Regions from separate parts of the Homo sapiens genome. Here region 1 is reported to be linked to region 2. Evidence: microRNA targets listed by miRTarBase, many of them from high-throughput screens and not tested one by one. Region 2 holds a microRNA gene; the other region holds the end of a gene's coding sequence.
What was found. The annotated mature microRNA hsa-miR-6511a-5p reads CAGGCAGAAGUGGGGCUGACAGG and lies in region 2 at 2,950-2,972, opposite strand. An mRNA with a match to its seed (bases 2 to 7 or 8) in the 3' UTR can be bound and repressed. Matches are read on the target gene's strand: a 7mer-m8 pairs with bases 2 to 8, a 7mer-A1 pairs with bases 2 to 7 and ends in A, and an 8mer does both.

Region 1: miRTarBase lists NHERF1 as a target of hsa-miR-6511a-5p. Seed matches in the 3' UTR shown: 7mer-m8 at 690-696.

What each region holds. Positions count from the first base shown.
Region 1 is chr17:74,768,175-74,775,286 of GRCh38, forward strand. It overlaps NHERF1 (NHERF family PDZ scaffold protein 1), which reads left to right. Exons shown (of 6, transcript NM_004252.5): 5 at 1-62; 6 at 294-1,179. The coding sequence ends at 482. It overlaps NAT9 (N-acetyltransferase 9), which reads right to left. Exons shown (of 7, transcript NM_015654.5): 3 at 5,402-5,514; 4 at 4,722-4,865; 5 at 4,044-4,103; 6 at 3,786-3,880; 7 at 2,355-3,684. The coding sequence ends at 3,550. Among named protein-coding and RNA genes, the nearest start is that of NAT9, 4.6 kb to the right of the region's middle. RefSeq lists a silencer at 2,731-2,830.
Region 2 is chr16:2,103,769-2,110,870 of GRCh38, forward strand. It overlaps MIR6511B1 (microRNA 6511b-1), which reads right to left and starts at 2,985; the gene lies at 2,901-2,985. PKD1 (polycystin 1, transient receptor potential channel interacting) reads right to left here. Exons shown (of 46, transcript NM_001009944.3): 15 at 4,484-7,102; 16 at 4,115-4,264; 17 at 3,037-3,180; 18 at 2,630-2,909; 19 at 2,323-2,536; 20 at 2,097-2,256; 21 at 1,554-1,706; 22 at 730-874; 23 at 1-127.

The DNA.
Region 1 (7,112 bases), not on the chromosome of region 2:
CAGCCTTGGAGAGCCCCAGGCCAGCCCTGGTGAGATCCGCCTCCAGTGACACCAGCGAGGAGGTAGGCCAGCCATGCGGGGGGTGGCAACTGGGTTACAGGAAGCCGATTCCCAGGCCCCACTTGTTCCTGGCACACCAGCCTGCCTTTGAGGTCACATGCTGAGCCGCATTCTGTTCTTGTGACCTGGCTTCCCTGGGCACGGCCCCAACGGAGCCACCTCACCAAGGCTGAGGACCAGGGAGCCTAATGAGGGACTGACTCCCAACTTCCTGCCCCCACTTCTCTTTACAGCTGAATTCCCAAGACAGCCCCCCAAAACAGGACTCCACAGCGCCCTCGTCTACCTCCTCCTCCGACCCCATCCTAGACTTCAACATCTCCCTGGCCATGGCCAAAGAGAGGGCCCACCAGAAACGCAGCAGCAAACGGGCCCCGCAGATGGACTGGAGCAAGAAAAACGAACTCTTCAGCAACCTCTGAGCGCCCTGCTGCCACCCAGTGACTGGCAGGGCCGAGCCAGCATTCCACCCCACCTTTTTCCTTCTCCCCAATTACTCCCCTGAATCAATGTACAAATCAGCACCCACATCCCCTTTCTTGACAAATGATTTTTCTAGAGAACTATGTTCTTCCCTGACTTTAGGGAAGGTGAATGTGTTCCCGTCCTCCCGCAGTCAGAAAGGAGACTCTGCCTCCCTCCTCCTCACTGAGTGCCTCATCCTACCGGGTGTCCCTTTGCCACCCTGCCTGGGACATCGCTGGAACCTGCACCATGCCAGGATCATGGGACCAGGCGAGAGGGCACCCTCCCTTCCTCCCCCATGTGATAAATGGGTCCAGGGCTGATCAAAGAACTCTGACTGCAGAACTGCCGCTCTCAGTGGACAGGGCATCTGTTACCCTGAGACCTGTGGCAGACACGTCTTGTTTTCATTTGATTTTTGTTAAGAGTGCAGTATTGCAGAGTCTAGAGGAATTTTTGTTTCCTTGATTAACATGATTTTCCTGGTTGTTACATCCAGGGCATGGCAGTGGCCTCAGCCTTAAACTTTTGTTCCTACTCCCACCCTCAGCGAACTGGGCAGCACGGGGAGGGTTTGGCTACCCCTGCCCATCCCTGAGCCAGGTACCACCATTGTAAGGAAACACTTTCAGAAATTCAGCTGGTTCCTCCAAACCCTTCAGCCTCCGTGTGTTCCTTGGAAGTTTTGTCCTCTGGCCTTGGACCCCTTATAGGTAGAAATTGAGAAATGGTAAGCCAAGGTGGTCTTTGGCTGGGAGGGTGGGGTACACTGGAGGGAGGGCCATCAAGGGCTCCCTGTGACCCCAAGCCTGGGTAGCTTTAGCTAGAGGGCCTAGCTGCAGTCCTGTAGGAAGGAAGATGCATGCACCCAGCCGGGTATTCAGCTTGGTGTGGTCAGTGTGCCTGTGTGCTGGGCTGCAAGCACCGATTGTGGGCTGGGGACCCCTTGTCTAACGGGGATATTTACAAGGGGAAGTGGGAGCTCAGACCAACGTTCTCAGAGGACTCTGGGAGGTTCCTTTAATTCCAGAAGCGTGGAAAGTGTGTCCCAGGATGGAGCTGGGTTTGGAATGTGAGGACTTGGCTTTACTCTTTCTGCCTATAGCCAGTGGGGTGCAGAATTCCCAGGGGCAGGCTGGGCTGGTGCCAGATCCTCTATCTTATCTGGCCATTGTGACCTGATTGGAGGGCAAGTGTCCAGTGCCAGGGGAAAACAAACCGGTCCACTGAGCCCGGGGACATGCTGTGTGGCTAGCTGGGGTGGAAGGGACTGTTCAAGGGCAAGGTGCCCTGCCCCCAACAAAAGACCCAGGTCCCTGATACCTTTGGCACCTGAAGCCTGATCTGGAGGTCCAGGAAGGTGGCTTGCAAGAGCTAGGCTGCAGAGCCGGGAGGTTCCGGGCAGGTGCTCAGGAGGAAGGTGCCCCCAGGCTAGTCTCCACCCAACCCAAAGGGACACCTCTCAGAAAATAGGCTCCTGGGCTGAGGGGAATGAGTAAAGCAGGTAGATCTGGAATCAGGGAGTGGACAGTGTCCCCCAGGCCAGTCACTATCTGGCCATCTCCTGCTCCTTGTCAGAGGAACCATCCAAAACCCTTACCACAGCAGTGCCCTGCTCAGCTGACCTGCCCCCACCCCACCCTTGCTTCTACCCTTTGGCCCCTGACAGATTCCCCTCCACAGGGGTCGTGGAGGGCCCCTCCCTATCTCACCTGCTGGGTGGGGAAGCCCTGGGGGACCTTTGACTCTTCATTAACCTGAAGACTGGTGGAAGGAATGGGTGGCCCCAAGGGAACTCTCATTGCTGAGGTACACATGGTACGAAGGGAGCCACGGCAAGCAACGCGTTCGTTTTATAATGTTTGTTTTATACTGAGGCATGTTTTCGGTTCCAGTTGTTCACATGCAGTCTGCTGTGAGACTCCAAGATCAAGGGTGCTGGGAGGCCTTAGGCAAGTCACCTTACTTATCTAAGACTGTTTCCCCACCTGGAAGATGCCCTACAAGCCTCCTGTGGCTGTGTTTAGAAAGCATGCCCGGCCTTTCTTGACAGCCAGCCACCCCAGATGATGGCAGGGCAAGGAAGACTGTTAGGAGTCAGAGTGCTCCCCTCAGGTGGAAGGAAACTGGGCCAACTCTACTTTGTAAGCCATAGGGTGCCAGGTAGCCCGGCCACCCTGAGCCTGTGCCTCCACTGCCCCCGCGTGGCCAGTCAGGTGCAGCTGCTCCCAGAGATGGAGGGTGAGGAACAGACGTGGGAGCACCAGAGGGACAGAGCTGATGGCCTGACGCTCTCTTCAGGAGGGCACCCCCAAGGGGCCTCTGCTTCCTCAGTGCCCCCTGAGCTTTATCAGCAGAGGGGTGTTTTCCAGCCACAAGGAGCTGTATCTAACACTAATGCCTTTAAACTCAAGACTGGCTCCAGGAGAGAGGAGGACGGACACTAGGTTGAGGGGCCAGGCCACACTCACTCTGGACCACCTGTTGTTCCCGGGTCAAGTTCCCAGGGTCACACCAGCCTGCCTCTGCAGGACAAGAGGACCAAGCTGCCCTTGAGTGGACACTGTGAGGCTGGGGCTCGTGGTAGCTCTTCACATGGACCAAACGGGAAAATCAGGAAAGCTGGTAGTGCCTGGAGCTTCACTCCCAGCCAGGGCAGCACCTCTGGCCTCTAAGGAGAAAGGCCTGTCCACTCCCATCCATGTTCCAGGTCCCCCTGCACCTCCAGCTCCCACCTTCATCCCGACATCTCCCATGGATCCCTGCCCTCCATTCCAGCTTCCTAGAGTCTGGGTCTGGGTTTGGCCGGGAGGGGAGAAGGGAACTGGCCCTGGCCCTGGAGTCTGCTCAGCCACACCACTAGCTGGAGGGAGGCCACAGCAAGCCCCGCCAGAGTCTGAAGGGCCTCGAAAGGTGATTCCCAGCCTGGGCCAGGAGCACTCTCCCAGTGCAGGGCTCTGGTCTTTGAAGTGTATGGGCCCAACACCCTGCTCACACAGAGTGGCTGCCCACAAGGCCCAGCCATCAGCAGGGCTCTGCCGACCCATCTCTGTAAGGCTTCTCTTCCACGTGGCTGGTCTGCTCCAGAAGCCACTGATGCTCGGACTCACTCACTGTCAGTCTGAGGGTCACCTCCTGAAAAACACTGCTCGTAGCCACCTACGTGAGCCAGAGAGAACAAAGCCTGCTAAGTTACAGTATTACCACCACCAGGCCCACCACCCAGGTCTAAGCCCCACTCTGCCCCAGGACATCCTTACCTGCTCAAAGTGAAGTTTCTGGAACATCCGGATGCTTGGTTCATTTCCTTGCCCAATTTTAGCCTCAAACTTGGTCAGACCTAGCGTGGTCACTCCTCGCAGAGGAGATGAGACAGGGGCAAGTAAGGAGGCGCCTGCCCCCACCCTCCTGTCCCAAGCTGCAGAGGAGGAACCTTCACCTGCCCCCAACCCTCACACCTGAACAAAGTTCACCTGGGGCCTGCCCACTTCCCGCATTGTCTGCTCACACTTTCTTACCGTAAGACAGCATCGCGAGAACGGCCTCAGTGCCAAGGCCCTTACCCCTGCAGCTGGGCTCTAGGAGAGACAACAGGAGCGGCGCTGACGCCGTGTGCCAGGCTCCAGTGCGGGCACTTGGCAGACACCATCTCATTTAATTCTCAACAACTCTGAAGTTGCTACTATCATTACCATTCTGCAGACGAGGAAACAGGCACAAAGAAGTGTGAAAGGCCTCACAGCTTGCAACCCAGCAACCTGACTTCAAAGCTGACCTCTTTACCTCATGGAGTCAGTATGCTGCCTCATGGGGATAGTCAGTAGCCACTTGGGGGAAACTGAGGACCATGAAGGAGCAGAAACAGGAGGGCCTCCTCCTGTAATATGACAACATGCTCCAGAGACCTTTTTCTGAGGGTCCCCAGCCCACCCCAACTATGGGACTAACCATACTTGAATCTACCCCAAACCAAGGGTTAAGTTCACGCCTAAGCATAAGGACTAAAGTGATGAGGCTGAGGGTGTACCACCAGGCTGAGGGGGCTAGGTGGGCAGGCTGCCCAGCCAGGCCCTGGACTCACCACATGGAGCCTCCCAGTGAACCCTGTGAGTGCCCACCCTTTGCAGCCTCGGCAGGCTCAGTCAGCAGATCTGAGAGCCGGGAGTCAGCGGAAGGCAGGGCTAGGTGAAACAAACCTGCAATCATGACCTCGATCTCCCCCAAGGTGAGGTCTTCTAGATCTGTGAGGAAGAGGTTCACATCTCCCACCATGCAGCTCTCTTCGGTGGCGCCTGGCTGGGCCTGCCACTTCTCGGCATCCAGCACAATGAAGGTACACTCTGAGGAGGAGGTGACAGGGCTATCACACACACTCCCCAGAGGAGAGAAGAGAGGATGGTACTCCTACCCAAGCCAGAGCACTGCAGAACACCAGCATCTCTGAGTCTGCCAGGAGAAGAGGGGGTCCCAGAGCTTCCTTCAGCTCATTACAAAATTCCAAATCTGCCTCATACAGAAAAAGCCTCTCCAACCAGCAACCAAATTCTCAGAGAGCAGGGAACACAGAGGAGGGCAGTCACCACACTAGGCTGTGGTGAGGGACATGAGGGGCAGGGCCTCAATTTACAGCCAGAGCCCCAAATGCTCTACTTTCTCCAAATCCTTCCAAGCCCGATGCAGTGGGTGGGGAAGAGGACAGAAGGGTCAGCCACAGGGACTGGCTTCAGGGCCATGAGAATACAGGAGTTCCAGCACCTTCCAGGCTTTTCACAAAGCTTCTATGGCCGGGGCTGGGAAAGGGAAGGAACCTGGAGACTGACTGTGGAGTCAGCCCTCCCAGTACCAGGGCTAGGGGAAGTGGGGGGGCACTCCTCACTGTCTGCATCTTCCTGCCAGCTGCACTGCATGGCATACTCCTGCTCCAGGGTCAGCGGCTCCGAGGCTGTCAAACGCTGCAGCTCCTCTGATTTCATCCACTCGTGGTACCTGCTGGGACAGAGGGGTGGCTTTAGACATGGAGGACTCATTCAGAGGCATACGTCTGACACCTTATGAGGGTCCAGAACCAGACAGGGCTAACATAGGGCTCAAAGAAGACCCAAAGGGTTATGATTGCTCCTAAGGCAGGGGCCACAGACACAAGACCCAGAAGCAAGCTAGTCTTACACAAGAACAGCAGGACGAGTCAGTTCTATCTGTCCAATTTCCTATCCTGTCTCGGGTCAGTGCGGAGGAGCAGTCTGAAACCAAACATTCTTCAAATTCCAGAAGGGGATGTATATGGCAAGCCAACCTCAACAAAGGCGGCTGGACAGATCCCACGAAGTTAGGGCACCAGGAACCCTCAAACGGAAAACTACAAGTAGAGAATACCCATCTACAGCACCACTATCCCAATCTACCAGACATGTGCCAACTGCCCCCACAGGAATCCCATCATGACTCAGTCCTGGCCTTTTGAATGGTAGATATCACAACTCATCAGCTCAGAGTTCAAGGACAAGCTAACATTAAGTCTCCAAGAACTGAACATACTCACTGGCACCAGGGAAACATCACTAATTTACAATTAGGTGAGAAGACAATTTCTTTTTCTTCCACGTTTAGTTTACATAAAGCAATTCCTTGCTGAAAGGCCAAAAAGCTGAGAGAATGAAAGGGAAGAGGATGGGCAGCTCCTCCCAAGGAAGTCACAGTCCCCAGGTTCTGCTATTTTTTTTTTTTTTTTTTTTGAGACAGAGTTTTACTCTTGTTGCCCAGGCTGGAATTACAGGCATGTGCCACCATGCCCAGCTATTTTTTTTGTATTTTTATTAGAGACGGGGTTTCTCCACGTTGATCAGGCTGGTCTCTTTTTTTTTTTTTTTTTGAGACGGAGTCTCGATCTGTCACCCAGGCTGGAGTGCAGTGGCGCGATCTCGGCTCACTGTAAGCTCCGCCTCCCGGGTTCACACATTCTCCTGCCTCAGCCTCCCGAGTAGCTGGGACTACAGGCGCCCGCCACCACATCCGGCTAATTTTTTTGTATTTTTAGTAGAGACGGGGTTTCACCATGTTAGCCAGGATGGTCTCGCTCTCCTGAGCTTGTGATCCGCCTGCCTCGGTCTCCCAAAGTGCTGGGATTACAGGCGTGAGCCACTGCGCCCAGCCTTTATTTTATTTTATTTTATTTTTGAGACAAAGTCTCACTCTGTTGCCCAGGCTGGAGTACAGTGGTGTGATCTCGGCTCACCACAACCTCCACCTCCCTGGTTCAAGTGATTCTCCTGCCTCAGCCTCCCAAGTAGCTGGAATTACAGGTGCCGGGCAACAAGCCCAGCTAATTTTTTGTGTTTTTAGTAGAGATGGCGTTTTATCATGTTGGCCAGGCTGGTCTTGAACTACTGACCTCATGATCCACCCGCCTCAGCCTCCCAAAGTGCTGGGATTACAGGCGTGAGCCACCGCACCCGGCCGTTTTTTTGTTTTTGTTTGTTTTTGTTTTTTTGTTTTTTTTGTTTTTTTTTGAGACAGGTTCTTGCTCTGTCACCCAGGCTGGAGTACAGTGGTACAATCACAGCTCACAGCAGTCTTCATCTCCTGGGCTC
Region 2 (7,102 bases):
AGGATGCGCATGAGGGCAGAGGTCAGGTTGTAGGCCTGGGACGCCACCATCCGAGATGGTGACTCGGCTCCCAGCTCTGAGGGCTGTGGTGCCCGCACGTCCGAGCTGGCCAGGTGGATGAGGTCTCCTGCAGACATGCGTGAGGTCAGTGCAGAGACAGGGAGGTAGAGGGAGGGTGGGGGCAGGCAAAAAGGGGGAGCCGGAGGGTGGGGGCTGGGAGAAAGGGGGAACCTGAGGGGGCAGAGAGCGAGGTGCAGGCAGAAGGAAGGGGGAAGCTGGAGAGAGAGTGGTGGAGGGGGGAGGGGGAAGGTGATGGGGATGAGGACGAAGATGAGGGGGATGATGGGGAGAGGGAGGAAAAAGGAAGGAAAAGGGTAGAGAAAAGAGAAGGGAGAAGAAGAGGAGCAGGGGGAAAGGGAGGGGAAGGGGGATAAGGGAGGGGAAGGGGGATGAGGGGGATGAGGAAGATGAGGGGAATGGACAAAAGGACGGGGAGGACGGGGGGGGAAATGGAGAAAAGGGGAGAGAGATGGAGAAAAGGGATGGTAATAGGGAAGGGGGAGGGGGAGGAGAATGGGAATTGGGGGAGGGGGATGAGGATGGGAATTGGGGGGAGGGGAGGGGGACGAAGATGGGATGGGGCAAAGGCGACGCGGTTGGGGGGAGGAGGGAGGCAGAGGAAAGGGCCGCACGGGGCGGGCGGGTGGCATGGGGCACGGGCCGCGGCACCTGTGATGTTGAGGATGCTGTCTCCGATGGCGGTGGGCGTCACGGTGCCCGCGGTGGTCTCTGCCTGCAGGATGAGCATCATGGCCTCCAGCTTGTGCAGCGTCTGCTTCAGGCACGAGCGGCATACGAGCTCCCTGCTGGGCCCCTGTGTGGAGCCAGCAGTGTCCAGCCCCGCTCCTGGCCCCACTCCTTGCACACGCCCTCCTCTCTACACGGGTCCTCACCTGGCTCCCACCCCCAGCCCTGCAGCTGGAGAGCCCACTTGACTGGACCCCCACAGCCTCCTCACTAAGCATTTTCTGTGGCTCTGCATGACCCAGGGCCTCCACCTGGGGACCACGTGATGCAGCCCACCGACCACACAAGGCACCTCTTCACATGAGAGCGGAGGAGGAGGGGAGAGAGGAGAGGGGAGTGGAGAAAAAGGGGAGGGGAGGAGGGGAAGGGCTGGGGGGGAAGAAGGGAAAGGGCTAGGGGAGGGGAGGAGGGGAAGGGCTAGGGGAGGGGAGGAGGGGAGGGGCTAGGGGAGGGAAGGGGGAGGGGAGGGGAGGGGAGAGTGGAGGGCACAGAGCAGCATCTTCTTAGTCCCTCCCCACATCTGGGCCCCTCTTTACACCCTGGGTCCCCCGAGAGGCACCCTGCGTTCACACAGGACAGAACGGCTGAGGCTACTGAAGCAGGTCAGAGACCGAGGAACGCCATGGCAGGAAGGAGCCCAGGCTGGAGGCTCAGCTCCTCGGCCAAGCTGCCCGTCTGCCCTGGGGGGCTGAACCCAGTGCCCTGGCAGGCATGCGGGGCAGGGTGAGCAGGTGGGGCCATCCTACCATGCACTGGGCCAGCGCAGCAGCGATCTGCTGGATGTCATCCACAGTGTGGACCCTCAGGGACACCAGAGTCTCCGTGATGTTCTTGCGTATCTGGGCTCGGTGCTGCCGCTCGTGCTTGGGCTCTGCCGCCACGTCCAGGGCCCGCTCGTACTGGGGCAGGCAGGGGGCACAGCAAGCTGTCAGCAGCGCAGGAGGCCGGCAGGAGGCCAGCAGATGCCCACGACTCCCGGGGTGCAGTTACGTGCTAGACGCTGTGTGATGCGGGCACTGACCCACAACACTGAGCTGTTTCTTCATGGGCAAAACAGGGTAAGCACATGGGCCCTCCTGGGCGGGGGCTGCATTGTGGAAAGCAGACGCCGGAGAGGGCCCGGTGGGTGTGGCTGCTGGGAGCGGAAGGTCGGGGTGCTGCTTCAGGGTCACTGGGATTTATCTCTGGGGCCCGGGATGAGCCCTCTGCAAAGCTCCAGGCAGGGGTACAGGTCTTGGTCCCAAGCACGCATGCAGCAGATGTGACGTCCCCTCCCAGGCTGCACTCACCTCGTTCAGCACGGTGACCAGGGCCAACGAGTACTCGATGACGTGCTGGGGATCGGCCTGCCGCAGCAGCCCTGGGAGCACACTAGCGGTGAGCCCGTGCAGCCAGACTGTGAGCCCCGTTGCGCTGCCGTTGGGCTCTGGGAGGGTGATGGCCAAAGACCTACGAGCAGAGGGGGGTGGTGAGCAGGTGGCAGTCTCGGGGGCGCCCTCCCACGGCCTGGCTCACCTGTTGAGGGCGACCACAGCGGCTCCCAGCTGGTCCTGCACCACCACGGCCAGGCCCACCTCGAAGTGTGGCCTGAAACCCGGGGGCAGCACGGCTCCGTAGCTGGAGAGGCTGCCCTTGTAGACACAGAACTCCTCGCAGTGGCCCTGGCGACAGCGCCGCAGCAGCAGGGCGTACACCAGCGGGGCGCCAGCATCCTCCGCGTCATGCCAGCCTGAGGGACGGTCCCCACGGCATCACGGGAGGGCTCCGTGACGTCACAGAGTCGGGGGATCCCGCTGCTCCCCCCACGCAGGCCTGCACTCACCCGTGCATTCGAAGTGCACCTTGGTGGTGAGGGCGTGCACAGCGCCCAGTGGGAAGAGGCGGCAAGAGCCCCCCAGCGGCGGGCGGTTGGGGGACAGGCGGATGGAGGCGCAGCCCTCCTCCTCGCCAGAGCGGCCCAGCACCGTGAGCGTGAAGGTGTATCCCTCGCCGTCCCGCAGCACGCCCCGCCGCAGCACCAGTCGCATGCCTGCACTGCCCGTGGATGTGGTGGTCTCATCCAGCACCAGCGTCTTGTTGCTGAACGTACGTGCAGCCCACCGCTGCAGGCAGAAGGGGTGGTGAGGGGGCGCAACCCTCTGCCCTGTCAGCCCCACTTCTGCCTGCAGGCCCCGTCCCCTCGGCCATGGGACCCATCCCCAGCCCGCCCACACCCCGCTCAACACTCACCCCTCGCTTGGAGCCGCTGCTGCAATTGAGGCAGCGGCCCTCCAAGTACACGTAGGAGCTGCGGCTCACTTCGTACACGGCCTGTGCCTTGCAGGACACACACTCCAAGGACACAATGGGCACCCGGCCACTCCGGATCAGCACCTGGCGTGGGAGTGGGGTTACCTCCAACACAGGTCTATTTGGCCTGCTGGAAGGACTGGGGGACCCATGGAGGATGCTGCTCCCAAACTCCAGGTTTCCCAGGGGCCTGGCCACTGCCGGTGAGCTCACTCCCTCCCAGGATACTCATCCGGTTTGCCACCTTCCAACTTGGACGGCGGAAGGGCATACACAGGGCAGAGGACACTGGAGTGTGCGTTCTGGTGTACTGGACCCAGCTGGACCCTAGCAGGAGGCAGGCAATGCTCACTGAGGGCCCCTGGGGGGATGCGTGTGAGAAGAGACGTATGTGTGGGTGTGAGGACCGCAGCTGCCACGTAGGCCTGACTCACAGACTCCTGCAGCCCTTAGCCAGGGCCTGGGTCAGGAGGCTGAGCTGGGATGGAACCTGCTCCCACACCCTCCCCTCAGACGACCCCTCTGGGAAGACCCCCAATCAGGCCAGCTGAGGAAAGCAGGGACTGGGGAACAGACGCCCACTCTGGGGCACCAGCAGGCCCCGCCTGACAGCAGCAGGAGCAGCCACCACGGGCTCAGGGTCACCAAGCCTCCTGGCCGGTCCAGAGAGGGGAGCGTGAGGGTGAGAACCGGCCCACCACATCCAGCAACAGGGACATGGGCTGGGGACAGTGGCTACCTCTGGGGTGGGAAGGGGCTCTTCCTCACTGTTGGTATTGCTAGGGGACTGTGTAGCTTTTGCCACTAGAGCATATGTGGCTTGAAGACTGTACGTGGAACTGTGGCAGGTTTGGAAGGAAGCAAAGCTGAAGCAGGCTGTCGTGTTACATAGAATTTGCATCAGAAACAGAGAGGGGAGAGCGTGCGGCCTCCACCAGCACTAAAACACGGAAAACAGTAGATGACCAGGGAGGCTGGGCTGTCCAAGGCAAGTGGCCGAGGGGCGGGCGGCACCCACCGTCTGGTTGGTGGCCTCCTCCTTGCGGCCGGCCTTCCACACGGTCAGGCTGAAGGTGTACTCCACGCCAGCCGCCAGCCGCTCCCGTGGAATGGTGACCGTGCTGCTCCCGCGGGGCCCAAAGTTCAGCGCACACCCGCCAGCCTCCCTCTGCAGGCCGAGAACAAGGGGCGACGTGGCCTGAGAGCCCCATCCAGTTTTAAAGCAGAGCCCGGCCCAGGAGACAGCGCGGGAGACCCCCTCCCCATGCTGGGACGGGGCCCACCAGGCACTGAGGACGGGCCAGCCCTGGTGGCAAGCTGGGTGTTCTCTGGGCTCATGGGTGTGGACGGGTGAGGGGCATGGAGGACGGCCCTGCCACGCACTGACCTGTGTCGAAGCCACACAGGCCCAGTGGAAACTGAGCGGCGTCTGGTCGCCGTCCTCCAGGTTGGGGTCGTAGGACTCGCTCCCATCCAGCACCAGGTCCCGTGTGTCTGACCACACGCGGTATGAGCCACCCTCAATGATGGGCACCAGGCGCTCGGGGGCCACCGTCACATTGGCCTGGATGCTCTGTGTCAGTGGCGTGTCCCCAAATGACACGACAAACACAAAGCAGTAGTGCCCCACAGGCAGCGCCAGCCGCGGCAGCACCAGCCGAGGCCGGCTCACGTCCACGCCGGGCAGGGCCACACGCGCTGGGCGCCCCGGCCGCTGGCAGCTGGCGGTGCGATACACCTCCCAGCGGTACTCAGTCTGGTAGGTGACGCAGTCGCGCAGGTCAACGTGGGCCTCCAAGTAGTTGCGCTGTGATCGCCGCATCAGCACCTGCAGGGGCAGGACCACGTCCACCTCCGGCTCCCGGCAGGCCAGCACCTGGACGGTCACCGTGGCCTGCGCCACGAAGAAGCTCACCAGGTTGGAGGCGTTCACCTGCACGCGGTAGTCCCCAGGCCTCAGGTAGGAGTGCTCGGCCCTGGGCTCATCTGTGTCCTGCCCTGGCGACCCATCCCCAAAGTCCCAGTGGTAGGCCACACGCCGGGGGCTGGGGCTGGTGGCGGCCTCAAACTGCGCCGAGCGGTTGGTGAAGCAGGGGCCGCTCTGCAGGGCCACATACTGGACGGCGTCCTGAACCTCCAGCACCAGCGTGCGGTTCTCACTGCCCAGGGCGTTGAAGGCGCGCACCTGGATCTCCAACAGCCCCGCGGCCACGGGCGTGTAGGTGACGTCGCGGCCCGACAGGATGACCAGCGAGTCGCCCTGGACCTTCTGCAGCGAGAAGTACCAGGCGTAGGCGACCCGAGAGCCGCGCTGCACGCGGGCTGTGAAGTTCCTCTCAGTGCCCGTGGCGATGCCAGGCTCGCAGCAGTTGGGCACCTGCAGCCCACTCACGGCCTCCAGCACCACGATGCGCACCTGCGCCTGGGCCCAGCTCACGTGGTTTTTGCCCCGCACGCTCACCACGTGGTCTCCGACGCGGGGGAAGCTGTGGGAGAAACGGGGCCCGGGGAGCACCTCGGGGTTGGCCCCGCCGACCTGCAGGCGGAAGGTGACAGCTGAGCCGGCAGCCAGCAGGATCTGAAAATGGACCAGCTGCCCGGGCGCCACCACCTTGCTGCTGGCCCACAGCACCAGGCCCACGATGGGCTCCTCCGCCGTGAGGTTGTACGTGGCTGAGACCCAGCTGACTGCGTTGGAGGCATTGAGCCGGATGGAGAAGGTGCCAGCATCCGGGAAGACCATGGTGACATGAGGGCCACGCTTGCTGCTGCCGCCGGGCACAGCCCAGCACCAGCTCACATTGGTGCCCGTGGCCAGCTGCCCCCAAAAGGGCACAGAGGACCCGGCCGCCACGAAGCTGCCTCCGGGCTCGCTGGCCCTGATGCTGAGGCCACTCACAGGCACCTGCACATCCACTTCCACGGTGGCGTTGGCTGAGCCCAGCGGGTTCCCTGCCGTCATGGTGACCAAGTGCAGGCCGGGTGTGGGGAAGCTATGGGTGGTAAATGGCTCGGAGGTCTCCCAGCTCAGCCCCTCCTCCAAGGACCAAGTGTATACGACACCACTGCCACCAGCCAGCTCGGCACTGAGGGTGACGCTTGTGTTGACGGCAGCTGGGTTCGGGGAGGCGGCCACCATCAGCCACCCCACAGGCTCCACGAAGTCCATGGTGCAGTCGGCCCAGGCGCTGCCCAGCATGTTGGTGGCCCGCAGCTGCACATGGTAGGTGCCGGCCTCGAGCACGGTGAGCGAGAAGCCTTTGCCGCTGCCGGCCAGGGCCGGGCCCCTGTCCCTCCAGGCAGTCCAGCTGTAGGAGACGTTGGTGCCATCCCTAACCACGGCCTGCAGCTGTACCGTGTGGTTGGTGGGGAAGTAGCGGCCACCGCCCACCACCTGCAGCCCCTCTATGAGCTGCAGGACATAGACGAAGATGCTGTCCTGGGCGGAGCCCACCTCGTTCTCAGCCGTGACGATGATATTGAAGGTGCCCACGGAGCGGAAGGTGTAAGAGATGGTAGGACCCCCAGGGATGGGCGTGCAGCGGTCACAGAGCACCCAGGAATAGCGCACATCACTGCCGGCCTCCAGCGACGTGCTGAAGCTCACGCTCCCATTCAGGGGCACCACCGTGCGGCTTGCATTGACGACGAGCCCCCGCACGCGCCGCTTCACCGTCACATTGAGCCAGGCCTCGCTGCGGCTCACCTCATTCCAGCCGGCCACCCTAACGGTGAAGTCACCTGTGCTGTTGTAAGCGTGGGTGACCTCCGGACCCTCGAGCCACCCACCGTCCCCCAGATCCCACAGGTAGCTGGCGGGGCGCCCACGGCCCACAGCAGAGAACAGGTACGGCTGCTGCAGCTCCAGCCCAAGGGAGCCATTGACCTTGATGCTGGTGACCAGCACGGGCTCCTGCACCTCCACCAGGGCTGAGTCATTGGCAGCAGAGATGTTGTTGGACGCGGTGACTGTCACAAGATAGGAGCCTGGGTCTCGGTAGATGAA